Linked DNA regions of Homo sapiens: regions 2 and 3 are each linked to region 1. The links come from fine-mapping of genetic effects on gene expression. A gene starts in region 1. Each other region holds a variant in brackets. All regions are shown on one strand. Distances are between the middles of the regions. Region 1 holds the start of ANXA3 (annexin A3). Region 2 overlaps LOC124900721 (a long non-coding RNA gene). Region 3 overlaps ANXA3 (annexin A3).

The links.
Region 2: its variant is fine-mapped to the expression of ANXA3 in tibial nerve (GTEx, PIP 0.95).
Region 3: its variant is fine-mapped to the expression of ANXA3 in blood mononuclear cells (TOPMed, PIP above 0.99). The same link has a PIP of 0.9 or more in whole blood.

The regions. Positions count from the first base shown.
Region 1 is chr4:78,549,015-78,555,470 of GRCh38, forward strand. It overlaps ANXA3 (annexin A3), which reads left to right and starts at 2,756. Exons shown (of 13, transcript NM_005139.3): 1 at 2,756-2,845; 2 at 5,422-5,474. The coding sequence starts at 5,460. RefSeq lists enhancers at 3,121-3,872, 3,176-4,375.
Region 2 is chr4:78,617,191-78,623,646 of GRCh38, forward strand. LOC124900721 (a long non-coding RNA gene) reads left to right here. Exons shown (of 2, transcript XR_007058152.1): 1 at 1-377; 2 at 5,984-6,151. Among named protein-coding and RNA genes, the nearest start is that of LINC01094, 26 kb to the right of the region's middle. The variant C/G (reference allele first, on the strand shown) is at 2,637.
Region 3 is chr4:78,597,643-78,604,098 of GRCh38, forward strand. ANXA3 (annexin A3) reads left to right here. Exons shown (of 13, transcript NM_005139.3): 11 at 3,868-3,926. Among named protein-coding and RNA genes, the nearest start is that of LINC01094, 45 kb to the right of the region's middle. The variant G/A (reference allele first, on the strand shown) is at 2,632.

The DNA of each region.
Region 1 (6,456 bases):
CCCCCTCTGCGAGAAACACCCAAGAATGATCAATTAAAAAATAAATAAATAAATAAATAAATAAATAAATAAATAATAAAAAAAATAATAATAAAATGTGAAATAATTAGGAAGTGGTTAATTTTGAGTACCTATTACCTTTGCTTTTAACGTAATTTATTCAATTGTATTTATTTAACTTGTAATAATGTCTACATTAATACTGGCTGTGAAATAACTGAAAATTCAGGAACTGGCTTTCACATGCTGGTATAACCCAGCTCCAACACATCACTGTAACAGCAGCTATGTATTCAACAGCCACAATCACGTAGTCGGTCTTTCCTTCACATTTTACCATATGTTCTAAATATATCTCAATAACTTTGCTTTAAAAATTTGTATTTGGCTGTTAAATTGTTCTTTTGATCAGGATGCTATAGGAAAATTCCCTTTTTACTAACCTGTAAAGTTCTGTGTATTCAGAATAATGAAACTTTTATTAAATAACCTTTTCTGAATTCTTTTTCTGGATAACCATAAACCTGGATTCTAACAGCATCCTCTAATATTTCCTTCCAAGAAAACTCATCCTTTGGGGAAAAAATAGTTTTATAATATGCCATAGCATGTTTCTAATATAAATGGTGGTAATTGGGCTGTTGATACAACTAGAAAAACTCAAAAAATGATAAAAGTGCATTTGTTAAAGTTACCATCAGGAAATCAAAGAAGTTAAATCCTGAATGGTTTAAACAATTAAAATAAAGCCTACATGTAAAACATCACCTGTTACTCATTTTCTTCTGGCTATAAATCTAGCCCTATGACTTCCTAGTTGCCTGGAATACAACTCGTAGAACTTACTGAGTCCCTCTGAGCCTGTGTCTGTATCTGCAAAATAGAGGCAATCATACCTAATTTACAGCTAGTTGGTAAGCATGACATAGATCACGTACGTCAAGTGCATTACCCAGTGTCTGGCACAAATAATAATAAATATTTTCCCCCATTTCATGCTAATCTCAGAATTTTTTGAGGTAACATGGGATTTAACAGTTTATTGTGGTGAAGTCTGAATGGGAGTCAGGAATTACTATGCAGAACAGAATGCAGAACACCATCCTATCTTCTCTCTTGCAGAAAGCCCATCACTTCGGATTTGTAGATCTGAGAGGGCTCCCAGGGCACTGGCCTTTTAAGCATGACCACTTCTGCCTTCTCCGTTGTAGCTCCTCTTAAACCAGTGGTTCTCAAACTTTAGGATGCATCAGAATCACTTGATGGCGCAGGGTTTCAGGGAATTTGCATTTCTAATGAGTTTCTAGGTCCCAGGACTCAGCCTTAAGGACCAAGACTGTAATCTCTTCAACTCACACTCAAGCAGCTCCAGCCATGCTTATCCTCTAAAAATCCTCTGTGCTCCACCTGTTCACCCTACCTCCTCTCAACTCCTAGAAACCAGTGATTTTTTTTACTGTCTCCGTAGTGTTGCCTTTTCTGGAATGTCATATAGTTGGAATCATAGTGTGTAGCATTTTCAAATGGGCTTCTTTCTCTTAATAATATGCATTTAAGTTTCTTCCATGTGTTTTTATAGCTTGATAGCTAATTTCTTTTCAGTGCTGAATAAAATTCTATTGTATAGATGTATCACAGTTTATTTATCCATTCACCTACGAATTACATCTTGGTTGCTTCCGACTTTTGATACTTAGGAGTAAAGCTACTATAAACATCCATGTGCAGGTGTTTGTGGAGGTAAGTTTTCAAATCCTTCGGGTGAATACATAAGGGGCCCAGTGATGACTGAGTGCAAGCAATACTTTTTACTTACGTGGTCTCGGATAAATCACTTCACTTTTCTAAGCCTCAGTTTTCTCTTCTGCAAATTGTGATAAAAATAGCACCTCCTAGAGTTCCCTTGAAGATAAAAGAGGTAAGGTATTCAAGCACTTCAATGCCTGATACTCAATACATGGTAACTTTTTCTACATCCTTCAGCACACAACTGCTCATAATTCCCTCATACGAGTAGGGCTTTAACCTTTTAGCCTCGATGATTTGTTTTGCTCTTCCAAATGCCTAGAATGCCCTTCCAGGTTACCGTCTCCCTGAGCCTTTGGTTGGAATCCTCATACCAGAGGGTCAACACGTTTAGTAGAGGAATTACTGAAATAGTTGGGTTCCAAACACTAGCTCTGGCATTTACCTTCTGTGTAAATTGGCTGAAGTTACCCAACGTCTCTGTATCTCAATTTCCTCATCTATAAAATGGGGATAATAGTATCTACCTCATAGAGTTGTTGTCGGAGCCATTTTAATGGCAAAAACCGCAATTACTTTTGCACCAACCTAATAAATCCGCGCATATTCTTAAAGAAGTTAGAACAGTGCCTGGTACAAAGTAAATGCCAGATCAATGTTATTAATGTTAGGTGTCCGCCACCTATGCCACGCAGTGAGTTCCTTAGGTATAGGGACAGTCTAATCTCCGAATCCACACTGCCTAGAACAAAATAAGCATTGCAGTACATTTGAGAAAGTAAAGGTGTAGTGGAAACCGAGAGCGAAATGAGGGCGTAGGGAGAAAAGGGTGGGGAAGCTTAGAGACCGGTGAGGGAGCAGAGCTGGGGCGCCTGTGTACAGGGATAGAGCCCGGCGGCAGCAGGGCGCGGCTTCCCTTTCCCGGGGCCTGGGGCCGCAATCAGGTGGAGTCGAGAGGCCGGAGGAGGGGCAGGAGGAAGGGGTGCGGTCGCGATCCGGACCCGGAGCCAGCGCGGAGCACCTGCGCCCGCGGCTGACACCTTCGCTCGCAGTTTGTTCGCAGTTTACTCGCACACCAGTTTCCCCCACCGCGCTTTGGGTAAGTTCAGCCTCCCGGCGCGTCCCCGCGAGCCTCGCCCACAGCCGCCTGCTGACGGGTGGCTTGGGGAGGTCGCGGCGCCTCGCCCAGTTCCCCCGCGAGTGCAGCTCGACCCTGGGCAGGGCTGGCGGCTGGCGCCCGCGCCCGGCCCCAACCCAGCTGCGTGGGTGGGGAGCTGGAGGGACCTCAGTCCTGCATTTCAGAGTCGAGGAGACTGGGCCCACGGGGGGGAAAGTGCCGTGCCATGGGTGGGTCACCCAGGTCTTGGTGGGGCCCAAGCTGATACTCAGCTGTCCTCGCTCCCTGAAAGCTTCGCTTATTACAGCTAGCAGCGTAAGGGATCCACTTAGCCATCTCGGCCTCCCCAGTCCTAAAGGTCTAGGGGACAGAAAAAAGCTGGGAGTCGGAAGGTTCCTCGGGTCCCCGGCATGGCAGACGGGGCTGGCTCAGAGGTCTGCTCTGTGGACTTGGAATCGCACCCATCCTGTGAGCATCTTCTCCCCCTCACATAGGCAATTTATTTTATTTTACTTATTTTTTTTAGAAGGTAGAAAACAGTGGATTTGCATATTGAGGGTTGGAAGTTCAAGAAGTTTGCTTTTTCCTGAAAAGACTAACCGTTTTCTTTGCAACAGAATCCTATTGACTAGATATGAATCATTCCCTTGGTATTTGAGTCACCAGGTGGAAGATTTGGATACTTGATTGCAGATGACCATATATAGGAAAGTATGCAGGTGCTGGGAGGTTCTGGGTCGCTGGAGGCCCCTCTGGCTACTGATACGAAATTGCATAGCCCAGGCCGAATTCTTTCCAAGGATTTGTGTTCAGCACTGACAGCAAGACCCTGCCCTCCGGGAAAGATACATTTACTATGTTCACCAACATCATTTTTTAAAATGTAACTAATTAAAACGTTACTCCATGAAGATACCACCTTTGGTTTTCACGAAGACGGAAAACTTCAGACTGACCAGAAAGGGAATTTTTAAATGTAAAGAAAACCAGAATCTTGTTCCCAGAACTCTGTGGTTGTGTAGAGAAACCTGTTTAGAAATAACCGTAGAGGAGGAAGTAAAAGGAAATGATGTAATCCCTTTCAGGAAAGGATATATTGAAATTCTGTTTAAGTCATTTGGCCTTCGCTGTGGAGTAATTCTTTACATCTTAAAAGTTAAATGATAGATTAGTAATAATTCTTAATAATTTTCCAGTTCTGCTGGATCAATGCATATTAAGTGTCAGATTTGGTCAGGTGTGGGCCAGGCAGCAGATTAAGGCAGAAGCATGGGGGTTAGGTTCATACCTTTAGAGTCTAGCTGCCTAGATGCAGTAGGGGTCCACTCACTAGCTGTGTGACTGTGGGACATTACCATACCTCTCTGGGCTCCAGCTTCTTCATATGCAAAACGAAGATGTAATACCTAACTCACTGGATGATTGTGCGGCTTGTATTAAATCATTCATTTAATCAATAAGTTTTTTTTTTAAATATCTACCGTGCACCAGTGCACACAGATAAGAAGAATCTCCAGCCCTGTGAAACTGACCTCGTTCAATGCTGGCAACACCCCCTTCTTCACTTTTTACAGATGAGGAAATTGAGGCCCAAAGAAATTGTGTTTAGCTTTAAGAGGCAAAATGAGAACCAATAATGCCTTGTTTTCACTGTACAGATGGTTTGACTTCTGATTTTTAGACTTCAGAATAGTTTATCTGGCTGTAACCCCTCATAAGTCAAAGAGCATGTATTTAGAGAGATGCAGTATTAGACTCTAACTGGAGAGTTGACTGCCCTAGGCTACAGAGAGCCTGAAAAAACCAAGGTGAAATATTTCCAGAGACTAATAGTGTAATTTCCCATTGAACTTTTCTCTGGGGGTGTCAGGGAATTTTTAGAATATTTTGTTCCCAGGAAGGGTGGGAGCAACTTGCATTTCTAAATCAACCCTGGAGATATGCCAGCATGTTTGAATAATATCTATTTAAGAAAAATGTGTCTGGCTTCCCAATCAAAGAACTGTGCCTTTCACCTCTGCACCCCACCAAGGACTGGACCACCTCCTCAAAGAGCAGATGTGTCTTTATAACAGACTGTAGGCTTGGAGCCTTGTAAAATGTACATGGAGTTTCACAATCAAGCACAAGGAATCCAACTGAAGGCAGCTAAACTTTGTGTTGATTTGGTGAGGAGGAGTAAAATCCTGTGTTTTTGTTGTTATTGATCCCCGTAGTGGTAGCCTGTCAGTAATCAGCAGAGTTCTCCTGGACTTTAAATAAGTCAAAAATTGGCTTTTCAGGAAGTATATTTGTAAGCATCTTAAGTACAAAGATTTTTTTCTGTCTCTTGTCTTGAAGTCCTCACAGGTCTAGCACAGTCCCTTGCATATGGTAGATGCTCAGTAAATGTTTGTTTAGCAAATGGGATACCCAATGTCAGATATATGCTCTTCCTGAGAAGGTTTTTCTGTGAATGTTGACATCTGTTTTCTGGATTCAAGATTAAGGGTTGGACTAAGATTATTGTGTTCTGAATCACATATTGATACCATTTACTAATTGTTTTCTTTTAATAGATTAGTGTGATCTCAGCTCAAGGCAAAGGTGGGATATCATGGCATCTATCTGGGTAAGTAAAAATTAAGCCTTCACAACACAGTAACATATATGAGTCAAACCAAAACACAGAAGGTCAAGATAGCAAGGAAAATTTTAGGAAAGTTTTTAAGTTTATCTGGCAAAATTAACATGCTAGAAAAGCCAGAGGATGTCAAAAATAATAAAATATTTTTAAAAATGCATTGTAAAGTTACATAGTTAAAATAACTTATGATGACACCAAGGCGGAAAGGTCAAAATCAGATAATAAATTTAGTATATAATTTGGGAATTTATTATATGAAAAAGATGACATATCAGAGAAGAAGAGACGGATTATTCAATAAATGTTAGGAAAACTTCTAGCTGTTTGGGGAAAAAGTAAATCTGTATTCCTTTTTCTCCTTACAATAAAATAACTTCCATGTGGATAAAATACAGAAATGAAGAAGATGAAATATGAATGGGCCGGGTGTGGTGGCTCACACCTGTAATCCTAGCACTTTGGGAGGCCGAGGTGGGTGGATCACCTAAAGCCAGGAGTTTGAGACCAGCCTGGCCAACATGGTGAAACCGTGTCTCTACTAGAAATACAAAAATAGCCCGGTGCGATGGCAGATGCCTGTAATCCCAGCTACTCAGGAGGCTGAGGCAGGAGAATCGCCTGAACCTGGGAGGCAGAGGTTGCAGTGAGCTGAGATCATGCCACTGCACTCCAGCCTGAGAGACAGAGTGAGACTCCGTCTCAAAAAAATAGAAAAAGAGAAAGAAATATGAATGGATTGAAGAATATTCTTGGAGTGGGGAAGATGCTTACAACTGTGACACAAAACCAAACGCCTAAAAGAAAAATATTGATCTATTTTAACTACATACAAGTTTATCACTATGACAGCCAACAATCCCATTGGTAGAGGCAGAAGACAGCTCGCAGGGAAAAAATATTTGCAGCACATTAGACAAAAGACTTATTTCCTTAACATACAAATAACTTGAATAAATTGGTTTAAAAA
Region 2 (6,456 bases), 68 kb after region 1:
TCCATCCTTATTTTTTGTGTGTGTTCCTCTTGTTTCTGAAGTATCTAATGGAAAGTCTGGCTTCTCTGTTTCTCTCTTTCTCTGATTTCAGAAATCTTATTACGGTATCCTATCTATTGAAGATAACTAGAGATCAGTTTAAGTCTTCTCCATGCTGGAGCTTACAGAATAGATGCTAATTCTATTGCCTGCTTTCCCAGATACTGACAGGTAATAAGAGGGCCAAGTAGACCACCCTGCCATGGATTGGAGCCATGTAAGACCCATCCTGTGTACACTCAGAGCTGACTCTTTCCTAGGAAGTGAGTGGTATGGATAGACATGCGTCTTTTCCAATTCTTCCTGTGCCTCACCTCAGTCTTCAGGACTCCAAGGAGGTAGGACCAAAAAGCACAGGGCCCCTGAGTGTTATTTCAGATCCTCTGTGTAACCAGCCCACACCTGAGCCTTCTGTCAATGGAAAACTCCATTAGGCAGCAATGACTGGAGAATGTCTCCAATTTATTCAAACATGTTTCTAGAGAGAAGACGGTGGTGGGGAGAAAAGCACTTCCTTCCTCTCTCTACCTCCTGTCTCTTCCTAACCTCCTCTGCTTTAATTTCTGGCTAACCTCAGCACTGTTGACATGAAAAAGAAGCCTTTGCACTGTTAAGTCTACTTTGAATTATTTCAATATGGGGACCTTCCCTGGCCACCAGGCAACAAACTGTCCATTCTTGATTTTCTCCTCTCTCTCTCTTCTGGGTATTGAATATGTAGTTTGGCTGGACCAGGTGCTGCCAAAAACTTCTTGGGAGGCCCACGGCTTCCCAGAATCTAGAATCCACCCAGAGAAAGTCCCTGTGAGGAAACTTCACAGATCTTTCTCTGGTTACGTCTCTGGGAACACTGCACTTGCCCGGCTTTTCCTGCACTGCTTTTCTTGGCTTCCTCAGTGTGATGGTCCTGTCTTCTTTCTTCAGGAAAAACAGGCCCCCTGGCCTTCCCTTTCCTAGATGTGAAGGAAAGATGCCAGAGCCATACAATGTTGGTTTCAGTACCACCAACTTGCCGTGTAACTTTCGGCAAATTACTTAGCCTCGCTGATCCATCATTTCCTTTTGTTTCTAAGATAGGAGTAATAATTTATCAATTCATAGTGCCAGGAAGACCCAGGTGCCAGGAAGGATGGAATGCTTAGATCTGTCATGGAAGATACAAGGAATTAGATGAGGAAACACAAGTAAAGGAATTAGCACAATATCTGAAATATGTAGTCATTGGCTATTATTTACATCTTTCCCCAATTTCCCAGTCTCTTTTGCTGTTATCAAGTATATGCATAAGGTCTTTTTTATTTTGAAAGACTTAGTCATTATGGGAAAATTGACAAAGGACTGCAAATTCTGTATAATCATGTGGAACTTTCACAACTTAACCAACTGCACCACATTCTTGACCTCTCTGTGCAGGCAGAGAGAATTCAGCTCCCTTTGGACTGTGGCTTTATAACCTCACATGCTCTTCTCAGCCAACCGACCTGAAGAGCCAGTAGGCATTGACTTGCATTCTTTCAGAGGTCCTCTTGTTTCAATAATAATAAGCACCATTTCTTAACACTCACTATGAGCAATTCATATATTTTGTCTCATTTTGACTTTATAACAACACCATGAGGCAGGTAACCTTATCTCAATTTACTAGTCTGGAAAGAGGCTCAGAAACGTTAAGACCACTCTAGATATAGTTCTGGAGCCACAAAACAAACTGAGATTTCTATACAGTAGATCCAAAATCTATACGCTTGACTCTCTCACGCTGGGACCATGATACAGCAGTAGCAACAGTTACAAAGCTCTTTACTTTAGAGGCCCGTTTCTTGGGCTCTGGGGTTGGGAGGTAGGTCTGAACACTTGGGTGTCTCATAAATTCTCTGACTTCACACACTGAGCAACTTCACCACACATCACTGGCATCTAACGGTCAGTAATACTGAAGTCTAAATAAGTCTCTCAGAAGCTTACATATCAATAATATAAAGTCATCTAGTACAGGACAGAAGCCACCTTGATAGAGCCAAGTCAGTATCTTTCAATCTGACAAGACTGGTCAGGAGGCTCTCAGACCAGAAGGTAATATCTTCACTTGCTGAGCACTGTACTATCCGAAGTTCAAAACTATAGACTGTGCCACAGCGGGGCACATGTGCAAGGGCAGAGTTGGAGCCCTGAATAAACAGTTCACCATTACTTACAGAATTTCCCTGGTTCCATGTTTCCCCCTTTCTTTTTTGGGGGGAAGGATGTGAATTTTTCTTCTTTTTCTCCAGCAGTAGCAGTACTGAAACCATTCAGCAACGAGGATTTGGCAGCTTCTAAGGGTCATGTCGTTGGTGGGTGCAGTTTGAGTTGAAGTGATTGCAGACGTGCAGACAAACACACAGAAATAGAGGTTCAGTAGGGCCTGGGCCTAAGCCCTGGGGAAAGCTACAGTTACTTCAGTGGAAGGGGAGTAGGAGCCAACAGAGCAAATGGAAGGAAGAGCAGGAAGATGATGCCGCACTCCGGAGGAGAAGCAGCAGAGTTGCTCTCTGTACCTGCAAGCCAATGGAGAAGTTTATCATAAGACAGTAATGAACTAATAACACACCGCTGAC[C/G]GGTGACACACAGCAATAGTGGCAACTGTTGAAGAACTACTGTGTGCTCAGCGTCACGCTACATGCTTTAGAGAAGCCCTTAGGGCACAGTGGAGTTAGAAGTACGTTATTTATTAGGAATGACTGTACATAGGATAAAAAAAAAAGAAATAGGTCATTTATCCTAACTCTTACAGCAACTAGCTTTGAGAAAGTGAGCAGCTTATTCAATCTCTCTGAGTATTAATTTCATCTGAGAAATTGGAGTAATAATATCCATATTACTCATTTAGCCTATCAATGTGAACTGAAAGCCTACTGTGTACTAAACACTACTCTAAAAGCTGCATATACATGTAAAAATTTACTACCTGTTCGGCTGGGCGCGGTGGCTCAAGCCTGTAATCTCAGCACTTTGGGAGGCCGAGGCGGATGAATCACTTGAAGTCAAGAGTTCGTGACCAGCCTGACCAACATGGTGAAACCCAGTCTCTACTAAAAATACAAAAATTAGCCGGGCATGGTGGCGCACACTAGTAATCCCAGCTACTCAAGAGGCTGAGGCAGGAGAATTGCTTGAACCTGGGAGGCAGAGGTTGCAGTGAGCCTAGATAATGCCACTGCACTCTAGCCTGGGTGACAGAGCGAGACTCCATCTCAAAAAAAAGAAAAAAAAATTCAGTGCCTGTTTTCATGGAACTTACAGTCTATAATAAAGATAAGAATGATCAATTATATTAAATGCCTGGGATTTGGCACTTATTTCATTTAATCCTCACAGCAATCCTATGTTTAGTGTGCTCTTTTCACGTCAACATTATCTGCTGTTGTTAAATGTTAAATGAAAATAAGTCAAGGCAGATCTGAGAAAACTATTGAGTACTAGGTTCGTCTTAACTGTGAAAGTGGCCATTGTTAGTTGATGGTTATGTATAATTAGTTAGTTTGAGAATGTGGGGTATATATTTCATATTCAAAAGCGAACTCCTGCCTCTGTCAGTCAATATTTGTGGTCCACCATCATTCTTAGCATCTAGTCCAACGCCTGGCACATATTAGATTATCAATACATAATTGTTAAATTAAATTGAGTACTTATTATATGCCAGACATCACTTATTCTGCAAATTGCATTTTATCTGATCTTTGTTCTTAGAAATTATATAAGGGCCTCTGGGAGAAACAGTAAGATTCTGGCCTACTAAGCTTTAGTGTGCTGTGTCAATAGTAATTGAATCAGGGAACAGGGTCAAAACCAGTCTTAGATGAAGAGTTTTTTCCCTTCTCTGACATAACCCCTCTATTTCTACTCTGAACCCATCTCTTATTACCCAGGACATTGCTAATAATGATGGGTGGTCCCAAGGTTCTGCCCTTGCATTTCTGCTCCACTAGAAAATACTTGGATTTTTGAGACTTTAAATAACAGTTCCAGAACTTACTAGCTTGGTAATTTTTGTGAAGTTGCTTACTCTTAATTTCTCAGTTTCTTCTTCTATAAAATTGAGATAATGCCAACTTCTATGGTCAAGAAGATTAAATTAAAATGATACATCCAAGAATACCTAAGACAATGAATAAAAGGATAGGAAGCTAGAAACAGGGATAGTTACATTTACAGTAAAGCTAGTTAGATAGGAAACATAGAAGGTTCTTGGTGCTCCATAGATGTCCCTGACACTCAGCATTTCCTACGTTCTGACTCTCCTTACTGCAAGTGCCGGTGACCCTGCTGCAGCCTTTATCTGTCTGTGGGAGCTGACCACACTTGGGTCAGAACAGAAGTGTCAGGGAGTAACACCCCTGGGGTGGCTCTCAACCAGTGACAGATGGAGGCCATGGATAAATACCACAGGCTCTTGCCTCCCAAGTGAGACAACTCTGAGGCATGATCTATGCTGCCCCTGAGACCCCCAGGAAGTCTGAGCCCCAGCTGCCCGCAGTGACAACTGACTCACAACACACCCTGTACCGGCTTTCTTTCTTTTTCTGTCTCACTTCTGCACTCACTTCCCAGTGCTTCCTGGGATCCCTGGATCCTTTTCTCAGCATCTGTTTCTGGAGGGACACATCCCAAAATAGGAAGGACTATTTTCAGTAGTCACTATAAAGTAGGAGGTGTAACTGTGTGTAACTTTGTGGGGTTACAGGGTGGAGGAGTTGAGAGAAGAAAACGGAGGCTTTTAGGGTAGAAATCCTCTAGAACAGTGATTCTCTGTGTTGGCGTGCTAGGGAGTCACCAAGTGTTTTGGAAGTGAAATGGAGAGGTAGGAGGAGCACTGGGGTGGCTCAAGTTAGATGGCTCTGGGAAGGAAATGAGCCACAGCTTCAAAGTTCCACCTCTTTCTTCAAAGCACAGTTACCTGGAAACACAAACGAAAACGAATGAGAGGAAGATGAAGAATAGGAGCAATAAGAAGAGGAGGAGGAAATCCCATCTAATTTTATCTACCACATTGCCACCTTATTACTACTTTACATTTATTTCCATGGGTTCTTTGGAAGTGAAGTCCAGAATTTAGGGGCACACAGGGAGTCTATGATTCTAGTAAGCAAGGCAGGAAGCAGTGAAGGCAAATAGAATTAGTGAATGAAATGGGATAGATCATGTGACGCAGGAGAGGTTCCAGGGAAGCTAGAGATGGGCTTCCTGGGTGGGGTGAAGGAGATGACAGGCTGTGGCTGCAAATGGGATAATAGATCTCAGAAACAGAGATTACCCTGAGTGTTAACGACACTGACTAAGGCAGGTCAAAGGTGGAGGTCTTCAACCCAGGAAATACCTCTGGGGTAAAGGAATCTAAAAGGTTAATGTGGATTCCAGAGTCAATATAGATTATGGCAAAGGGCAGGGCAGAGGAGCAGGACTGAGTCCGCTGCTGAAGTAAGCTTGGGAAGTGAGGATGGAATCTGGTGAGTCACAGCATTGAGAACTGCACAGTCTTCAACTGGGCAGAGGGTGAGAGTGGGTGAGGGTAGTTCAAGGGTGAGAAAGCACACTGGAGGGAGGAAAGAGCTGGCCGCTCCACCTCACCCGCTGACTTGAGCAGAGAAGATAAGGCTATCATGCTGAAAACAGTTGGGAGAACAGTGATTTCACAGGAGAGCATCTTTCAGGCCAGACGGCAGAAGAAAGAGGATCCATGTGAATGGGGACTGTGATGGTTAATTTTCTGTGTCAAATTGGCTAGACCACAGTATTTGTTTAAATATTATTCTAATTGTGTCTGTGAGAATATTTTTTAAATGAGATTGCCATTTAAATCAGTAGACTTTGAGTAAAGCAGATTATCTTCCATAATGTGGGTGGCTCTCATCTGATCAGCTGGAGGCCTTAACAGATAAAGACTCCCTCTCCTTCCCATTAGGCAGAGAGAATTTTGCCAGCAGACTGCCTTTAGACTTGACCAGCAATACCAACTCTTCCCTGGGGCTCCAGGTGACCAGCTCACTCTGAAGATTTTGGACTTGCCTGCCTGTACAATAACGTGAGCCAATTCCTAAAATAAATCTCTGTCTCTCTCTCTTGCTATATATATATGTGTGTGCGTGTGTGTATTTCTCTCTATATATATAATAAATACATATATAATACATACTATATATGTATGAAGGTATATGTATCTCTCTATATGTATATATAGAATTTCTCTAGATATATGTGTATATATAGAGAGAGCTATTATATAGCTATATATAGAGAGAGAGCTATTATATAGCTATATATAGAGAGAGAGCTATTATATAGCTATATATATATAGAGAGCTATTATATAGCTATATATATAGAGCTATTATATAGCTATATATATAGAGCTATTATATAGCTATATATAGAGAG
Region 3 (6,456 bases), 49 kb after region 1:
CACTCTGTCACCCAGGCTGGAGTGCAGTGGTGTGATCTCAGCTCACTGCAGCCTCAACCTCCTGGGCTCAAGCAGTCCTCCCACCTCAGCCTCCCAAGTAGCTGAGACAACAAGCATGTATACCACCTGGCCCAGCTAATTTTGTATTTTTTGTAGAGATGGGGTTTCACCATGTTGCCCAGGCTGGTCGTGAACTCCTGAGCTCAAGCAATCCATCCACCTCAGCCTCCCAAAGTGTTGGGATTACAGGTGTGAGCTACCACATCCAGCCATCTTTTTAAATCTTACCTTGCTTTTTAAATTTGTATTTGTCTTGTGACCATGTTTAGCTTGTAGACTTCTTGAGAGCTGAAATATTTTATTTCTACTGGCATTTTTATTGAGCTTTGTTGAAAACTGAGACGTAGGCAAAGCACAGTGGCATGCACGTGTAGTCTTACCTACTTGGGAGGCTGAGGTGGAAGGATTGCTGGAGCCAAGGAGTTCAAGGCCAGTTTGGGCAACATAGCAAGATCTTGTCTCTTTAATTAAAAAAACCACACACACACACACACACACACACACATGCAACTAAGACCTAAGCCAGTTTGGTAATCCACCATATTTGGTTATTTATGAAAGATATCAGTGGCTTTTCTTTTCTTTCTTTCTTTTTTTTTTTTCTTTTGAGATGGAGTCTCACTCTGTCACCCAGACTAGAGTGCAGTGGCACAATCTCAGCTCATTGTTGACTCTGAATTGCTAAAAGATAAGCCGAGGAGGCTAAGAAAGGGAAAACTTTCTTCTTCAATTAAAAAAGTAGAATTGAGATCAGTCTTCATAATTAGTTCTCAGACTGTTCCAGTGGTAATGATACACCTGGTTAATTTTTTTTTCCATTTTACATTGTTAATCTTTTTTTCTTTTTTTTTCTTTGTGACGGAGTCTCGCTCGGTTGCCCAAGCTGGAGTGTGGTGGCGCAATCTCAGGTCACTGCAACCTCCGCCTTCCAGGTTCAAGCAATTCTTGTGCCTCAGCCTCCTAAGTAGCTGGGATTACAGGCACACGCCACCACGCCTGGCTAACGTTTGTATTTTTAGTAGAGACAGGGTTTCACCATGTTGGCCGGGGTGGTCTCAAATTCCTGACCTCAAGTGATCCGCCCACCTCTGCCTCCCAAAGTGCTGGGATTACAGGCTTGAGCCACCACCCCTGGCCTATATTGTTAATCTTTATATTAATTCTGCTTGCTGTTTTTCATTTGGTGTTCTTGCTAAGCCGTAATGTTTGAAAAACTTTGTTGAGATGTACAAACTCTCATTCACTGAGCTAAGGAGCATTCTTGGAAATATATCATTGAATAATGTATTACATTTGGGCTATAATGCACATTATTTTATCATGTAAAAAAAGACCTTATAATTCAATTGAAGTTCAAAATATGTTACACTTTCATTTTGTTTCAGTCTACCATTGGAATAAACCAGTTTATAAAATTTTTTATTGAGATATAACTTACATACCATAAAGTTCACCCACTCAAAGTGTGCAATTCAATGCTTTTTAATGTAGTCACAAGGTTTTGCAACCATCACCACAATCTAAGTTTAGGACGTTTTAATCAGCCGCATAAGAAACCCTGTAACTATTGACAGTCACTTTCCAATCCTCCCCACCCCCTGGCTCCTATAATCATTAATCTACTTTCTGTCTCTATAGATTTGCCTACTCTGCATATTTCATACACAAGGAATCCAATACAATGGTCAACACATAGTTTTTGACATGAAAAACGATCTGAGCTGTGTCATCTTAGAATCGTGTAATAGGAGCATACTACTTGCCAAATAAGAACAAATCCAGACTTAAGTAAGGAGAGGCTTTATTCAGTAGAACTATTTCAATAGAGAGAACATGTTGATTTCAGAAACCTGAAAGACTGGGCTGGGTGTGGTGGCTCATGCACATAATCCCATCACTTTGAGAGGCTGAGGCAGGAGGATCCCTTTAGGCCAGGAGTTCAAGACCAGCCTGGGCAACATAGTGAGAGCAGCATTCTGAGACTGTTCCAATGGCAATGATAGAACTGGTTAATTTTTTTTCCATTTTATATTGTTAATCTATATATTAAAGATTCTACAAAAAAATAAAAAATTAGCTGGGTAGGTTGGTGGACGCCTGTAGTCCCAGCTACTCAAGGGGCTAAGGTGGGAGGAGTGCTTGAACCCAGGAGGTCGAGGCTCCAGTGAGCTATGTTGGTGCCACTACACCAGAGCCTGAGTGACAAAAGTGAGATCCCATCTCTAAAAGATGGGGAAAAATGTGCAAAAGTTTCAAAATCCAACAGAAAAGTCTTAGCAGCAACTTTTAATGTTGGGCAAGCACAAGGGCATGATCACTGGGGATTGACAGGAAACACGTCTGGCAGTGGACAGCTGGACTCTCAAGATAAGCTGCAACAGAGGCATGTTCTGCATTTTAGGGCTTGCCCAGGACTGGGGACAAGCCAGAGTTCAGGAACCTGTGGGAGGAGAGAGGCCTGATGGAAGTGTGGTCAAGACAATGAAGAGGGTAGGGAATGGGCAATTATGAATTCTTGGTCATGGTAATTAACTCTAACGGACTCCCAAGCTTCCCTGCCTATGGTGCTGG[G/A]TGATAAAGCCTCCTTCCCACTGAAACATACTGCCACCTTCCAAAACTTTCAGATATGAAGAACAAATCTAGTAGGTAAGAATATAAAGCAGAAGGCAAGCTAAAGGGAAGAAAGGATCATGAAAAGAAGGGATTGTACAAATCTAGTTGGCAGGGAGGTGACTGGAAAGCTTAATAGGATGAAAGTGGGCATCATTATTTTTTATCAAGCTATTATGGCTTACTTAATGTGAGTTTTACTAGTTTAAATGGTTAGTTTCTTGTCAGAGAACTTCATGTAACAGTTTGATTCTAAATGCTGTGTTTGGGTTTCTAATACATTTCTCCTTCTATTTCCCTTAAATCACTCAAAAAGCCAAAAGTCTTTTAGCTTTCCTTAAGACAGTCTATAAGCCACGATGAGAAAGTCACTTATTCTTGTTCTGAGCTCCAAAATTCATTATAAAATCCATTCACTTTTGGTTGGATTCCTACCTAGAGATCAGATTTAAGATTATAAAAATAATTGTGTTGCTGTAAATAGGTTTCTTCCCTACAGACTTTTCTATTCCTATTTTCTTTTTATTTAAAAGATAATTTACTCTTGCGTTTTTGTCAGTTTCCTTTTTCTTGTTTTATTTCTGCTTTACTTGTTATTTCAAAATAAAGAATTGAAGGATTGTATTTTTTTTTTAAGGCAACTGAATTTAGATGACAGATACTTGTTCTAATGGAGTCACTCTAACCAGCCTATAAATTCTAATCCAGTCATTTAAAAGAAAATTCTTTCCATGGGAAAAATTGCTTTTAAATGGAACTCCAGTGCCCCTGCGTGCCTAATGAGTTATTTGGAGCAACATCGCTGCAGTTGTCAGGCCCAGGTTGTTCATCAGTAGCCCGAGATGCTAGTAGCTGAGCAGTGTCGCACCCTAGGGAGTTATCAGGGAAAGCGTAGGTGTTCGGGGTGTCTGGGATCCAGAGATGAGTCAGTCGCTGTGGGAGTTTCTTTGGCAGGTAATTTTATTTTCCCCATGGCTGGAGATAATTACTGTGCTAAAGTTCTGTGCAAATATGGTATTAAAAGGCTATGAAAATCAGGGTAAGCAGCCTTTCTTTCATTCCAAGTAAAAGCCAGTTGTGGGGAGGGGATAGAGTGGTATGACAGTCCAAAGAATCTTTTTAAAAAACATATTACTTACTATAGATTAACCCAATTTCTATTCCGTGAAGCTGAACATTATTTGCTTTTTGTTACAGTTAATTGTGTGAGGAACACGCCGGCCTTTTTAGCCGAAAGACTGCATCGAGCCTTGAAGGTTGGTCTGGAAAGTTCATGTGCATTCTTAGCGTCCCTTAATTCCCTTGGGAAAGTATGCAAATAGTAGAACAAATATTTAAAAATTAGTTATTTTAATGTAATTTAAACATTTTAAGATAAATTATATTACAGCAAATCAAGGTATGATACAATACACTCTTTACACAGACACCTGATTTTCTCTTCAAAATAAACAGACCTGGGTTTATGAAATAATTTTTTTCTAAGTAGGTATAATTTGATTTCTATTTAACTAAAACATTCTCATTTTCTCTAATATGATGAGTTTAAGTAGATGCTAATATTCCACTTGTATGAAAGATGAAAATTCATGTATAATATTAAATTTTAAAAGTTCATCCTCTATTTTAAATAGAAAATGAGAAGGCAGGCCAGGCGCGGTGGCTCACGCCTGTAATCCCAGCATTTTAGGAGGCCCAGGCGGGTGGATCACAAGGTCAGGAGTTCAAGACCAGCCTGGCCAGACGGTGAAACCCTGTCTCTACTAAAAATACAAAAATTAGCCGGGCGTGGTAGCAGATGCACTGTAATCCCAGCTACTCGCGAGGCTGAGGCAGAGAATTGCTTGAACCCAGGAGGCAGAGGTTGCAGTGAGCCTAGATTGCGCCACTGCACTCCAGTCTGGGCGACAGAGTGAGACTCTGTCTCAAAAAAAAAAAAAAAAAAAGAAAATGAGAAGGTAAAAATATGGCTTAATGTTGATAGAATGTCATATTTCTTTTCCACTTAGATTAGTTTTCTACAGTAGCTAATTTGTCTACTGATTTGCCTCATAGGTTAATAGTATTCTAACCCATATAGAGATAGGTACAGAGAAGTATTGACCACATTATTTTCACTGCTTCACAGTAAGTGCAGGCAGTAAAACTTGTTTTAGAATGCCAAACCTCAAGCTTGAGACCCAGTAGATCCTGTGGCCTCTCAAACTGCCTTGCTTAAAATAAACCAAGCTGAGTTGGCAGCCTTTAATGATGCCGTAACCCTGTGTTTGCTTGTCTGTCTTTACTGCCAGATGGTGCGCTCCATGAGTACAGACTCCTGTTTATCCTCAGACCCTAGGGCCTTGTGCACAGAAGATGCTTACCTCCATCTCTTTACCAGCCATTTTCTGTGGTCCCACACGTACCTTCAAAGTCATATCCTAAGTGAACACATCCTTTCCTTCATCTCGCCCAGCCCCACATCTGCTCCCCTTCCCCTGTTCAGTCATCCCAGAGAATGGCCCCAACAGGAATTTGCCCAACTCTCTGAAGTCGTACCATTCCTCCCCAGACTTCTTGACTATGCCTCAGCCACCCCAGGCTTCTTTCCATTCCTCAACTGTGGCAAGTCTATTCTCACATCACAGTCTTTGCATCCATTCCTTCTCTGGAATGCTCATCCTCTAGATCTTTACCTAGCTGACTCCTTCTCATCTTTCAGGTTTCAGCTCTCCTCCTGAGAGAGGTCTCCCCTAACTGTACCAGGCCAATTGGTTCCCTTTCAGTCACTCTCCATGCCATTTCCAGCTTTCTTTTCTTCATATTTCTGATCACTATTTACTTAAGCAATAGTTAATTTGCTTTGCTGTCTGTCTCCATCTACTAGAACATAAGCTCCATGCAGACAGAGATATAATCTGTTCTGTTCACCGCCATTGGCACAGCACATGGAATAATGCCTGGCTATAGTCGACGCTCATAAGCATTTGCTGGATGAATTACATAGATGAATGGAATATCATTTAGTATGTTGGCCATCATTAGGTCAAAATCCACCTAACTGCTCAGCTAGAAATTTTACACTATCTCTCTTTTTCATTATCCTGTAGCGATACATCATTATGTTTTGTCAATCCATTTACATAAGCAACTCTCAAATCTTCCCATTTTCTCCATCCCTACTGCCTTTATTCTAAGGATGGCCATCATCATCTCTTAATTACTCAGTCTCCTCAAGATGAGTCTCAAAGCCTCTAGTCTTAACTCCCTTATCTTCCTTCTACTCCTACCTTGCAATCTGTTTCTCATGCTGCAGTCAAAGTGATTTTCTGAAACCACGAATTTGATCTGATCTCAACATTCTCATGTTTAAAATATTACAAGAGCTCTCCACACTTAGGATAAAGTCAGAATTTCATTTCATGGTTAACAAGGTCTGGCCTTTCCAGACACATTTCTTTTTATCCCTCTTTGTTAACTTACGTATCCTTGAACGTGGCGTTCTTTATTGCCCTAAACCTTCACGCCTGCTATTTCCTCTATAGGAAGTTTCTCTCCTCCCTACATGAACCTACTCCTTCCTCTTGTTGACTGTTTAGTCCTTGCTTAAATGTCACTTTCTCAGACTTTTCCTAATCCCTAATCTTTCTTAGGCCCCCCTGAAGTATGCTCCCATGGTACCCAATATTTTCAACATGTCAGACTGTTTTGCAATGGCTTACTTTCTTGCCTGTATTCTTTACAAAACTGGAAGCTTAACATGGGTATCTCATCTCTGCTTTGCAGCATTTAGCATGATGCTGTCAC